Linked DNA regions of Homo sapiens. The protein of the gene in region 1 interacts with the protein of each later gene in a biochemical or structural test. Each region holds a gene or a part of one and is shown in the gene's direction. Other genes may lie near its edges.

The links.
Region 2: the proteins of DDX6 (region 1) and LSM14A are reported together in a solved structure, tested with the Homo sapiens proteins (one study listed by BioGRID).
Region 3: the proteins of DDX6 (region 1) and DCP1A form a complex in vitro, tested with the Homo sapiens proteins (one study listed by BioGRID).

What each region holds. Positions count from the first base shown.
Region 1 is NC_000011.10:118,756,512-118,760,265, reverse strand, and holds part of DDX6 (probable ATP-dependent RNA helicase DDX6), read left to right. Parts: intron 1-221; coding exon 222-344; intron 345-1,363; coding exon 1,364-1,492; intron 1,493-2,978; coding exon 2,979-3,095; intron 3,096-3,754.
Region 2 is NC_000019.10:34,217,386-34,221,139, forward strand, and holds part of LSM14A (protein LSM14 homolog A), read left to right. Parts: intron 1-2,005; coding exon 2,006-2,188; intron 2,189-2,320; coding exon 2,321-2,492; intron 2,493-3,754. UniProt on the Homo sapiens protein: Essential for formation of P-bodies, cytoplasmic structures that provide storage sites for translationally inactive mRNAs and protect them from degradation. Acts as a repressor of mRNA translation. May play a role in mitotic spindle assembly.
Region 3 is NC_000003.12:53,340,882-53,344,635, reverse strand, and holds part of DCP1A (mRNA-decapping enzyme 1A), read left to right. Parts: intron 1-2,364; coding exon 2,365-2,492; intron 2,493-3,754. UniProt on the Homo sapiens protein: Necessary for the degradation of mRNAs, both in normal mRNA turnover and in nonsense-mediated mRNA decay. Removes the 7-methyl guanine cap structure from mRNA molecules, yielding a 5'-phosphorylated mRNA fragment and 7m-GDP.

The sequences.
Region 1 (3,754 bases):
TAGTGTAGAATTTTTTTTTTCCCCTAGAAGATGGGGATTATAGATTTTGCCCCCTTCTGCATATTTGACTCTCTGCAGTGTTGGAGAGAATTTATTGTTTTCCACCAGGAACATTTCATGGATGCTTTTGTTGGATGATGCCTTATTCTTTGACCATGTATTAACCAAGACCTTAGACATTATTTTATTGTTTTTAAAATTGTCTTTTCTTTCTACTGCAGGCAGATAAGTTGCTGTCACAGGATTTTGTGCAGATAATGGAGGATATTATTCTCACGCTACCTAAAAACAGGCAGATTTTACTATATTCCGCTACTTTCCCTCTTAGTGTACAGAAGTTCATGGTGAGTATAAATCTGTACTTGGAATCAGTGCCATCCTGTGACCTTTGAGTATGCTTTTATTTGTAATTACATCTTCATATCTGTGAATATACTTTATGCTAATTATTTCAAGCCTTTGGCTCTTTCTTCAGTTGATCAATTAAAGATTTGTTTTACGTAAATTAACTGACTTTTTAAGAAGGTTGTAATAGTAACTTAATTAAATTCCTCATCTTTCACTTAGTTTTTGGTGTCATGATGACATAGCCATTGGTGCTAGCTGAATTGATTCCGGTATTATTCTATATACAAAACAGAGCTTGAGTATCCTAAACTGAAATCCAAAATACTGCAGAATTTGAAACCTTTTGAGCCACGAACATGATGCTAAAAGGAAATGTTCTTTGGATTTTGAATTTTCAAATTAAGGATGCTCAGTCACTAAGTGTAATGCACATATTCCAAAATTAGAAAAAATTTAAAACCTGAAACACTTCTGTTCCTAAGCATTTTGGGTAAGGAATACTCAACCTGTAGTAACTTAGCTGCATTTTTGAGATCTTATATCTTAATTTATTTCTATCGGGTCGGGCATGGTGGCTCATGCCTGTAATCCCAGCACTTTGGGGGGCCGAGGCGGGCAGATCACAAGGTCAGGAGTTCGAGACCAGCCTGGGCAACATGGTGAAACCCCGTCTCTACTAAAAATACAAAAATTAGTCTGTTATGGCAGTGCATGCCTGCATTCCCAGCTACTCGGGAGGCCGAGGCAGGAGAATCACTTGAACCCGGGAGGTGGAGGTTGCAGGGAGCAGAGATCGTGCCACTACACTCCAGCCTGGGTGACAGAGCAAGATTTTGTCTCAGGGTGGCAGGGGGGAAATTCTGTAATGACAGATCATATATTTTGTTTTGAAGAGAGTTGCGTCCCTTACAGCAAGAGTTTATCGGACAGAAACGTATAGGGTATATTTTGAATTTGAGATGAACTCTGCTTTCATTTAAGACGACGACTCATCTTTTTCCCGCTCCCCCCCCAGAATTCCCATTTGCAGAAACCCTATGAGATTAACCTGATGGAGGAACTAACTCTGAAGGGAGTAACCCAGTACTACGCATATGTAACTGAGCGCCAAAAAGTACACTGCCTCAACACACTTTTCTCCAGGGTAAGAAGTAGGCTTCTGCTGTTGAATATTATCTCTCGAGTCCCAGTAAAACAGATGATTTCATCAATTTTCCCACCGTCTTCACTGTATAAAAGTTCGTAGTGTTTCTGGCTTGGCACGGTGGCTCATGCCTCCCAGCACTTTGGAGGCTGAGGCAGGCAGATCACGAGGTCAGGAGTTTGAGACCAGCCTGGCCAACATGGTGAAACCCCATCTCTACTACAAAATACAAAAAAATTGGGCATGGTGGCGTGTGCCCATAATCCCAGCTACTTGGGAGGCCGAGGCAGGAGAATTGCTTGAACCCAGGAGGCGGAGGCTGCAGTGAGCTGAGATTGCACCATTGCACTCCAGCTCTGGGCGACAGAGCAAGACTCCGTCTTGGGAAGAAAAAAAAAAAGATTAAAAAATAATTCATAGTGTTTCCTAAAAGGCAGGTTTAGTTGTTGACCTAAAGTTGATACTAAATGATTAACCAAGTCACAGATACACTTTTGAATAGTTTCTGAAATACTTTGACCTTAACTAGGGTTAATCCTCATTATTCACATATTCTGTATTTGTGAATTTGCTTAGTCACTAGAATTTATTTGTAACTCCGGAATTAATACTCAAGGTAGTTCAGCAGTCATTTGTGGACGTGTACAGTGTGGCAAAGAGTTTAAGTCACCTGACATGCACATTCCCAGCTGAGGTCGAAGAAAGCAATCTCTGTCCTCTTGTTTAGCTCTCATACTGTGAACAAGGGTCCTTTTCACAGTCTGCCATGTTTTTCAAGTTTTTGTTGCTGATTTCACAGTTTTAATTGGCCCCTACACATGGTGCTGAAGTGCTGCCCAATGCTGGTGGCATTGGTTGTGAGTATATTAAAGAAGGTATTCTTGGCTGGGCACAGTAGCTCATACCTGTAATCCCAGCACTTTGGGAAGCCGAAGTGGGCAGATCACCTGAGGTCAAGAGTTCAAGACCAGCCTGACCAACAGGCTGAAACCCTGTCTCTACTAAAAATACAAAAGTTAGCCAGGCATTGTGGTGGGTGCCTGTAATCCCAGCTACTCAAGAGGCTGAGGCTGGAGAATTGTTTGAACCCAGGAGGCAGCTGTTGCAGTGAGCTGAGATTGCACCATTGCACTCCAGCCTGGACAACAAGAGTGAAACTCCATTTCACAAAAAAAAAATAAAATAAAATATTTTTAAATGGAAACACATAAAACATAACTACTTTGAATCAGATAATCAATTGTATTACTCTTGTTGACAGTTATGTGGCCCTTAAGAAATATACTCTAATACGGTAAATCTTAGATATTATTATCTTCCATCTATTATTTACAATTTTTACAATTTACCATCTCTCTCATATCATGAGATTCTAAGTTTTAGACCATGTTAATGTTTCTTTTTTGCTGGTTCGTGTTTTCAAGATTTGGCAAACCAAATGAAGGTTTTTTTTATTTTTCTCATACTTATTTTTTTCTGTGCTCAGCTTCAGATAAACCAGTCGATCATTTTCTGTAACTCCTCTCAGCGAGTTGAATTGCTAGCCAAGAAGATTTCTCAACTGGGTTATTCTTGCTTCTATATTCATGCTAAAATGAGGCAGGTGAGTATAAAACTAGAACTTGCACAAATTTAATAAGAAATCTCTTTCTTTATTTTGTTTTAATGTTCTTTTAAATGTCCTGAGTTTAAGAATAAACTGTTCCTTAGTAGCCAAAGGACCTTTCATTTTGACCTCCCTCAGGTTCAATTTTCTAGCAATAAAATAGGGATAATAGTACATATTCATAACTTACAAGGTTGTTAGGAAAATTAAGATAAATGTTTAAATGAGTACTTTGGAAGCTGTCAGGCATGATACAAATGTAAAATTTTATTCTTCCCTTCCTTTCCATGTTTAATTCTCTGTTTAATACAGTAAATAGCCACATGTGGCAATTTAAATCAGTTAAAATTAAAATAAAAAGTCAGTTTCTCAATCACAGCCACATTTCAAGTGCTCAGTTAGGCACCTGTTGCTACTGGATAGTGTATTGGAATTGGAAGTACAGACACAAATATTTCCTTTATTATAGAAGTTTTACTGGACAGCACTGCTCTGGATTTTTAAATATGGCCCCTCAGCTGGCTGATTTTTCTTTTTTTCTTTACTGTTTGCCTTTAGAAAAAGATACAATATCTAAATTTCAGAATTTGATTTAGCAAAAAATAATTTAAAACTGTAACAAAAATGACTTTTTTGTTAACTACATTATGAAATTT
Region 2 (3,754 bases), on another chromosome or scaffold:
ACATTCTAAAATCATTCATTTTATTAATATTTTCAAATTTATTAATGGAAAATAAATTATAATTTTACAACTCTTCTAAATTAAAAAGGGAATGTATAATCTACCTTATTTAGAAAATGATTGAAAAATGATCTTTCACTTAATTTTAGAAATCTAGATATGATATTTTTAGATGTATATGTACTCTTCTCTACATTTATATATATATATATTTTTATATCCCCCCCCCCCGTGTTTTTTTTTTTTTTTTTTTTTTTTTTGAGACAGAGTCAACCTCTGTCACCCAGGCTGGAGTGCAGTGGGGCACGATCTCAGCTCACTGCAACCTCCACCGCCCGGGTTCATGCCATTCTCCTGCCTCACCCTCCTGAGTAGCTGGGACTACATATGCCATGGAATACAGAATTTTGTTTAATTTGACTCATTATATTTTACCCTTTTTATTCAGAAAAAGAGAGAGCTCCCCTCCCAAAATAAAATAACTGCCATACTATCTTTCATTGCCCTTCAAAACTCACCCCACCAAAGAGGTTCATTAACAGAACAGTGCATATTCTTCCCGATTTTTTTTGTAGATTTTACAGACACAGACATCTATACCCAAAACCTTTTTTTTTTTTTTTTTTTTTCCCCCTGGAGATAGAATCTCGCTCTGTCACCCAGGCTGGAGTGTAGTGGTGCGATCTCTGCTCACTGCAGCCTTTGCCTCCCGGGTTCAAGCCATTCTCCTGCCTCAGCCTCCTGGGTAGGTGGGATTACAGGCATACGCCACCACGCCTGGCTAATGTTTCTGTATTTTTAGTAGAGATGGGGTTTCACCTTGTTGGTCAGGCTGGTCTCGAGCTCCTGACCTCGTGATCCGCCCGCCCCGGCCTCCCAAAGTGCTGGGGTTACAGGCGTGAGCCACCGCGCCTGGCCCCAAAATATTTTTTTTTAAGACAGAAGGATCATGGTGTAATTCTGGCTTGTGGCCGAGGCATTTTTAATAGTAGAGGTGAATGTTTCAAACATCCTACTTATCTAGATTTATGTCTGGATATGCTGCTGTGGGGTTTTGTGGTTTGTTTTCTCAAACCCAGGCAGTTTGCCAAACCTCAGCAAACAGCGCAAACCTATCTTGTTACCCTGTAGTCACTTCTCATCCTTGTCAGTATGTGTGGAGCATTTCACGCAATTGTGATCATTAAACTCATACTGGTTTCTGTTCTGCGTTTTTCAGTTAACATCAAATATTCTTCCTCTGTTTTTTTCTTGTTAGTCATTTTTCTTGTGTTGGATATTTGGGTTCCCACGTTTTTCACTATAAATTATGCTGCTTTGTATTGCTTTATCATGTCTCTTATGATTGGCTGAAATTTTACTGTGTTATAGAGGAGAGAGAATGTGTAGATACAGGAAGGCTTGAATAATATAGAGCCATCTGGAGAGACACAGTAAAGATGGAGTAGGAAGTGTTTTGAGTCAGTAAGGATTGGTGCTTGTCTGTTTTTTATCTGTGATGTGGAAATAACACCTATTTTCTTGCAATTTGTGCCGATTAGTGTTTATTTTTCTTACTATAAATCTTGGTTCCTGTTATTCTTTCCATAAAAGGCTTTCTACATTTTGAGAACCCACTGTGTGTCTGGCACTTCAGTTTGCCGGTGTTGGGGATATAGCAGTAAGGAAAACAAAGCCCCTGACCTCAAGGAGCATACATTAATTTAGTGCAGAAGCCTCCACACTTGCCTGGCTGTATACTCTGTCAGTAACACATGTGAGTGTGGACTCCATAAATACAAATGTTTAGAAATTTTGTGTGAGCTATTCTCAGTCTACATATTAAATATTAGTGAAACTTAATTTTTTATTTTGTATAAAAAATACAAATACAATAAAATATATAGAGAGACCTGTAAGCATTTCTGTTGTTGACTGTTGAATCTAAAGAGCACAATAGCAACATCTGTGCTAAACCAGCTATTACATATTGAATGTCCTTTGTATATATTCTTTATTATCATAGCTCCAGGTGCTCCTTCAGCTCCAAGGAGAGGGCGTGGGGGTCATCGGGGTGGCAGGGGAAGATTTGGTATTCGGCGAGATGGGCCAATGAAATTTGAGAAAGACTTTGACTTTGAAAGTGCAAATGCACAATTCAACAAGGAAGAGATTGACAGAGAGTTTCATAATAAACTTAAATTAAAAGGTAAGCTTTGATTTTTCTTTTCAGAAAATAATCTTATTTGATCTGTGAATTACAGATGTTTCTCAGATTAGGTGTTTTTATGTAATTCAGATTAGCTGTCTTGACTTTTCTGATATGTGCTTTTGTTCTTAGAAGATAAACTTGAGAAACAGGAGAAGCCTGTAAATGGTGAAGATAAAGGAGACTCAGGAGTTGATACCCAAAACAGTGAAGGAAATGCCGATGAAGAAGATCCACTTGGACCTAATTGCTATTATGACAAAACTAAATCCTTCTTTGATAATATTTCTTGTGATGACAATAGGTACAGTTTTTAAGCTGTTCTTTTATCTTATGATATTGATTGAAGTGTAAAATGGTTTCATGTAAATTCACGAGGTTTAATGAATACTACCATAATTGTTTTGTTTTGTTTTGAGACAGTCTTACTCTGTTACTCAGGCTGGAGAGCAGCAGTGCAGTCACAGCTCACTGTAGTCTCAAGCTCCTGACCTCAAGCAATCCTCCCATCTCAGCCTCAGTAAAGGGGACTACAGTTGTACACCACCCCACCCGGCTAATTTTTTTCATTTTTTTGTAGAGATGGGGGTCTCGCTATGTTGCCCAGGCTAATCGTGAACTCCTGGCCTCAAGATCAGCCTCCCAAAGTACTAGGATTACAGGCGTGAGCCACCACACCTGGCCATAATTGATTTTTTAATGTTTTATTTGCTAAAAGAAAATATATACTAAAGTTCTAAATTATTCATTCAAAAGAAGAAATAACCATATACTTTTGTTTAAGGATATATTCATATTTGAATATTAGCAATTAAAACAAGCATTTAGGTAATGTCTAAGTAGGACCTTTTTTTCACCCCTGTATGTTACAGTTCAAATGAAGCCAGAACCGAAGTGCTAATCTACTTTGAAGTTTGCTGGTACCATAAAACTGCCAGATTGTAGTAAATGTGGGTCCAGAAAATTGGCAAATTATTGAGAGGTTAATTAAAGGACCCAGTGTGAGGAACTAACAGTTCTAGAGGTTCTCCTGCCCAATCCAAATTGTCATTGTCCTTGTCCTTTTCCTGGCTGAAGTTTGGTGCCCTCTGGTGGCAGTTGTTTGCTTCAATATAAACATGGATGGACATAATTCTGAGTCCCACGATTGGCTGGATGACAGCAGCAATAATTCAGATACTTCTTGGGTTACTTGGTATCGGGTCCATAGATTGGGCCAGGAACATAATGGGGACCTAAGGGCCCACCTTCCATCTCCTAGCTTCCCAAGACAAGGCCTCCCTGTCTGACTTTACCTTCTTTTCCCTTGGGGCTGAGTGGAAAGCGAAGTCAATTACCAATCTCATTATATCTGAATTTCCATTATTTTGGAGCTGTTACTATGTTTATCAGGTGTATTTGCAAGAAACTAATGTCAGTCATGTGTTCACATGAAGTTTAACAGAATATTACAGGAACATATTGAACTCATATGCCATGAACAACTCGTGATAACTTAGATAAGATGCTTTTTTTTTTTTTTTTTTGAGATGGAGTTTCGCTCTTGTCACCCAGACTGTAGTGCAG
Region 3 (3,754 bases), on another chromosome or scaffold:
CGTCTCTCTTCCTACCCCCATATTAGAAAGAAAAAGAAAGATATATATTTGGGGAAAAGACAATACATAGACTGGCTCTGTAAAATAATGTTATTGAGAGGTCGATCCCTCTGTTCTTTCATTACTACATGAGTGGTTGTCTTTTATGACTGGTTCTGTCCTCTTTCCCAACCCACAGAAGTTCTGGATTATGTACAGTGTCTTATTTGAGAGTTCTTTAGAAAGCTTGGATTATTCATGATGGCGTATTTTTTATTTTTGACTTATTCAAAAATTCATTATCTTTAAGATTGGTTTGCAAATTGCAACTTTTTTGTTAGGCAGCTTTTGGGGCCTAAAGACAACTGACAGTATATGATAGTCATGGGGTACTTGTTTTCCTGGATTCCTCTAAGGTCTTAACTCTTACAAGGGCAGGTTCCTTCCCTTGTTTTCTAAAGCTTAGGGAGTCAGCAGGAGTTATTACTGATATCTGGTCTTTTCCCTTTTTTTTTTGTATTGAGTTGCTTCATAAGGATTGCCTTTCTCCATTGATGCCAATTTAAAAGAATTTGTCAAATACTCTTCTAAATTTTGATACAAAGCTTTGAGATCTCGTCTAAATGCACTCATTTTTTTCTTCTTTTAAGTGTAATTCTTTGATATTTGTACACCAAGCTCTTTTTTCTTAGACACTTTCTTTGTTCCCTGCTATTCATCTTTCTGCTTTTAAAAAGGAAGGGATCGGCCGGGTGCAGTGGCTCACGCCTGTAATCCCAGCACTTTGGGAGGCCGAGGTGGGCGGATCACGAGGTCAGGAGATCAAGACCATCCTGGCTAACACGGTGAAACCCTGTCTCTACTAAAAATACAAAAAATTAGCTGGGCATGGTGGCAGGCACCTGTAGTCCCAGCTACTTGAGAGGCTGAGGCAGGAGAATATCGTGAACCCAGGAGGCGGAGCTTGCAGTGAGCCGAGGTCGTGCCACTGCACTCCAGCCTGGGTGACAGAGCGAGACTCCCTCTCATAAAAAATAAATAAATTAATAGGAAAGGATCTTTACCCTCACTCCCTTCATTACTCTTCATTAGCAATATAAATCTCTAGAAACTCTGTTATTAGAACCTTAGTTTCTATGATATTTGGTAAAAGTACTTTACTGGCTTTATTGTTATCATACAGAGGCACTGATTGTAGAAAGTAGGAGATTTAGTGTAGTGGGTGGCTGGATTTAATACAATTCACGGAGGCTTATATGGTACTGATTCTAATTAAAGGAGACGCAAGAAACTGTGTTTGGAAAATGTGAGACTATTTTGCGTACCTTGGATAAAGGTATACCAGGATGTCAGACTGTCACTTTGCAGCTATTACTTCATATAGTAGAAGCTTGGATTTGGAGTCAAAAAACCTGAAACTGAATCCTAGTTATATTATTTGTAACTCATTATTTGTGTGACCTCAGGCACAGGCCTTATCATTCAAAGCTTGTCTCCTAATCTATAGAATAGTGTTCTGTTAACACCCCGGGTATATCGTAGAGAAACAAATGAAAAACGGTGAAGTGTTAGGTACATGTGAAGAGTAAAGGATCATGTACCGAATCCCTCTGATATGGGAACCAAGGATGTTTCCTATTGTAGGATTCAAGGCATTTTCCGTCTAACTCAGGAGCGCTATGTAAATATCTATTTGTTGCAAGAAAAACATTATTGTAATGATGGGCAGCCATTATAGCCAATCCAATTGAATGATATTTCATTCAGCAACTGTGTGTCTATCTTGGGATATATGTATGAAAAAAGTAAGACAAAAGCTCCATTTGCATGGGGCTTACATCCTAGTGGGGGGAGGACAATAAATACTAAAAATAAGTGGTATGGATAAAAGAGGAAGGTTAGAGATATTGAGCTTGGGAGCATTAAAAAGGATAGTTCAAGTAGGCCTCATGAAAAAGGTGACATCTGAACAAAGGCTTGGAGGAGATGAGATAGCTGTGCAGCTTCTGGGGCAGTAATCCAGGAAGAGGTTTTTAGGTAGAAGCACACACGCAGAGAGAGTGGCAAGGAGCCCGGTGTGGCTGGAGAGTAGGAGCTGGAGAAGAGCCATAGGAAATGAAGTCAGAGTGGGGAGTATATCAGGTGGGGCCTTGGTGGCCTCAGTAAGGACTTTGGCCTTTACTCTGAGAGACTGTCTTTGGAGACTTCTCGTCAGAGGAGGAGTATGATCTGACTTAAATTTTTTGTTTACAGATGTAAGTGCTGATAATATTGTATAATGTTCTAATGCATTCTTTTTTGAAATGAAAATAAAGTACATAGTAGATAACATTTCTACAGATTAAATGGTAACTACATATTTTTTTTTCTTCTATTAAATCTAAGGTCAGCTTCCCCTTACCATGGTTTTACCATTGTGAATCGACTAAATATGCACAATCTAGTTGAACCAGTGAATAAAGATTTGGAATTTCAGCTCCATGAACCATTTCTTCTGTATAGAAATGCAAGCTGTGAGTATATCTGTTTTATTATAGTTATTACATTTAAAATTGAGTGACTTTAGTTTCTATCAATCCATTATTTAGGAAGTTTCAAATTACAAAACAAAATATGGTCTCTACTTAATGATTATAAATGAGTCTGTTGGAAAGATCAAACCTTTTAAACTGGGCTCTGAGGCCAGAGGTGGTGGCTCATGCCTGTAATCCCAGCACTTTGGGAGGCCGAGGAGGGCAGATCACTTGAGGTCAGGAGTTCGAGACCAGCCAGGCCAACATGGTGAAACCCCGTATCTACTAAAAATACAGAAAAAAATTAGCCGGGCTTGGTGGCAGGCGCCTGTAATCACTTGAACCTGGGAGGTGGAGGTTGCAGTGAGCTGAGATCGCGCCACTGTACTCCAGCCTGGGCAACAGAATGAGACTGTGTCTCAAAAAAATAAATAAATAAACTGGGCTCTGAAACTGGAAACATTCTTTTGTATATAATTTAGTTTACTATTTCATTTAATAGCACTACATTTCTGTTGTCGGTTTATTAAAATAAGGTTTATGCCTTTGTTTTTTTGCAGCTGTGGACTATCAGCTGCCCATGTCCCTAAGCAACAGAACTTAGTTTGGGACACACAGGATGGGAACAGATACAGATAATTCTTTCCACAAAGAAAGTATTATTATTACTATTATTATTTTCTTTTTTTTGAGACGGAGTCTTGCTCTGTTGCCCAGGCTGGAGTGCAGTGGTGTGATCTAGGCTCATGCAAGCTCTGCCTCCCGGATTCATGCCCTTCTCCTGGCTCGGCCTCCCAAGTAGCTGGGACTACAGGCACCCGCCACCACGCCTGGCTAATTTTTTTGTATTTTTGGTAGAGAAGGGGTTTCACCGTGTTAGCCAGGATGGTCTTGATCTCCTGACCTTGTGATCTGCCTGCCTCGGCCTCCCAAAATGCTGGGATTATAGGCATGAGCCACCACGCCCGGCCAGAAAATATTATTTTTGCCCAGAATAGTGGTGATGGGTTTTTTTTTTTAAGATATTTATTACTTTTTCTACTTTATTTTGTCTGAATATGTTTCTAAGTAAGGTTTTTCTATCTGTTTATTTAATTGAGTGTCTACTGGTTACCAGCACTGAGCCAAGAGCTGTGGTGCTTTAATGTTAACGATACAGTTACCTATGTGGTGTAAGCAGGCAGTTAAGTCAACTGAGACTCAGAGATGCATAACTATTACCCTGTTGGAGAGTTAGGATTATGACTATTCTTCTGCTTTTT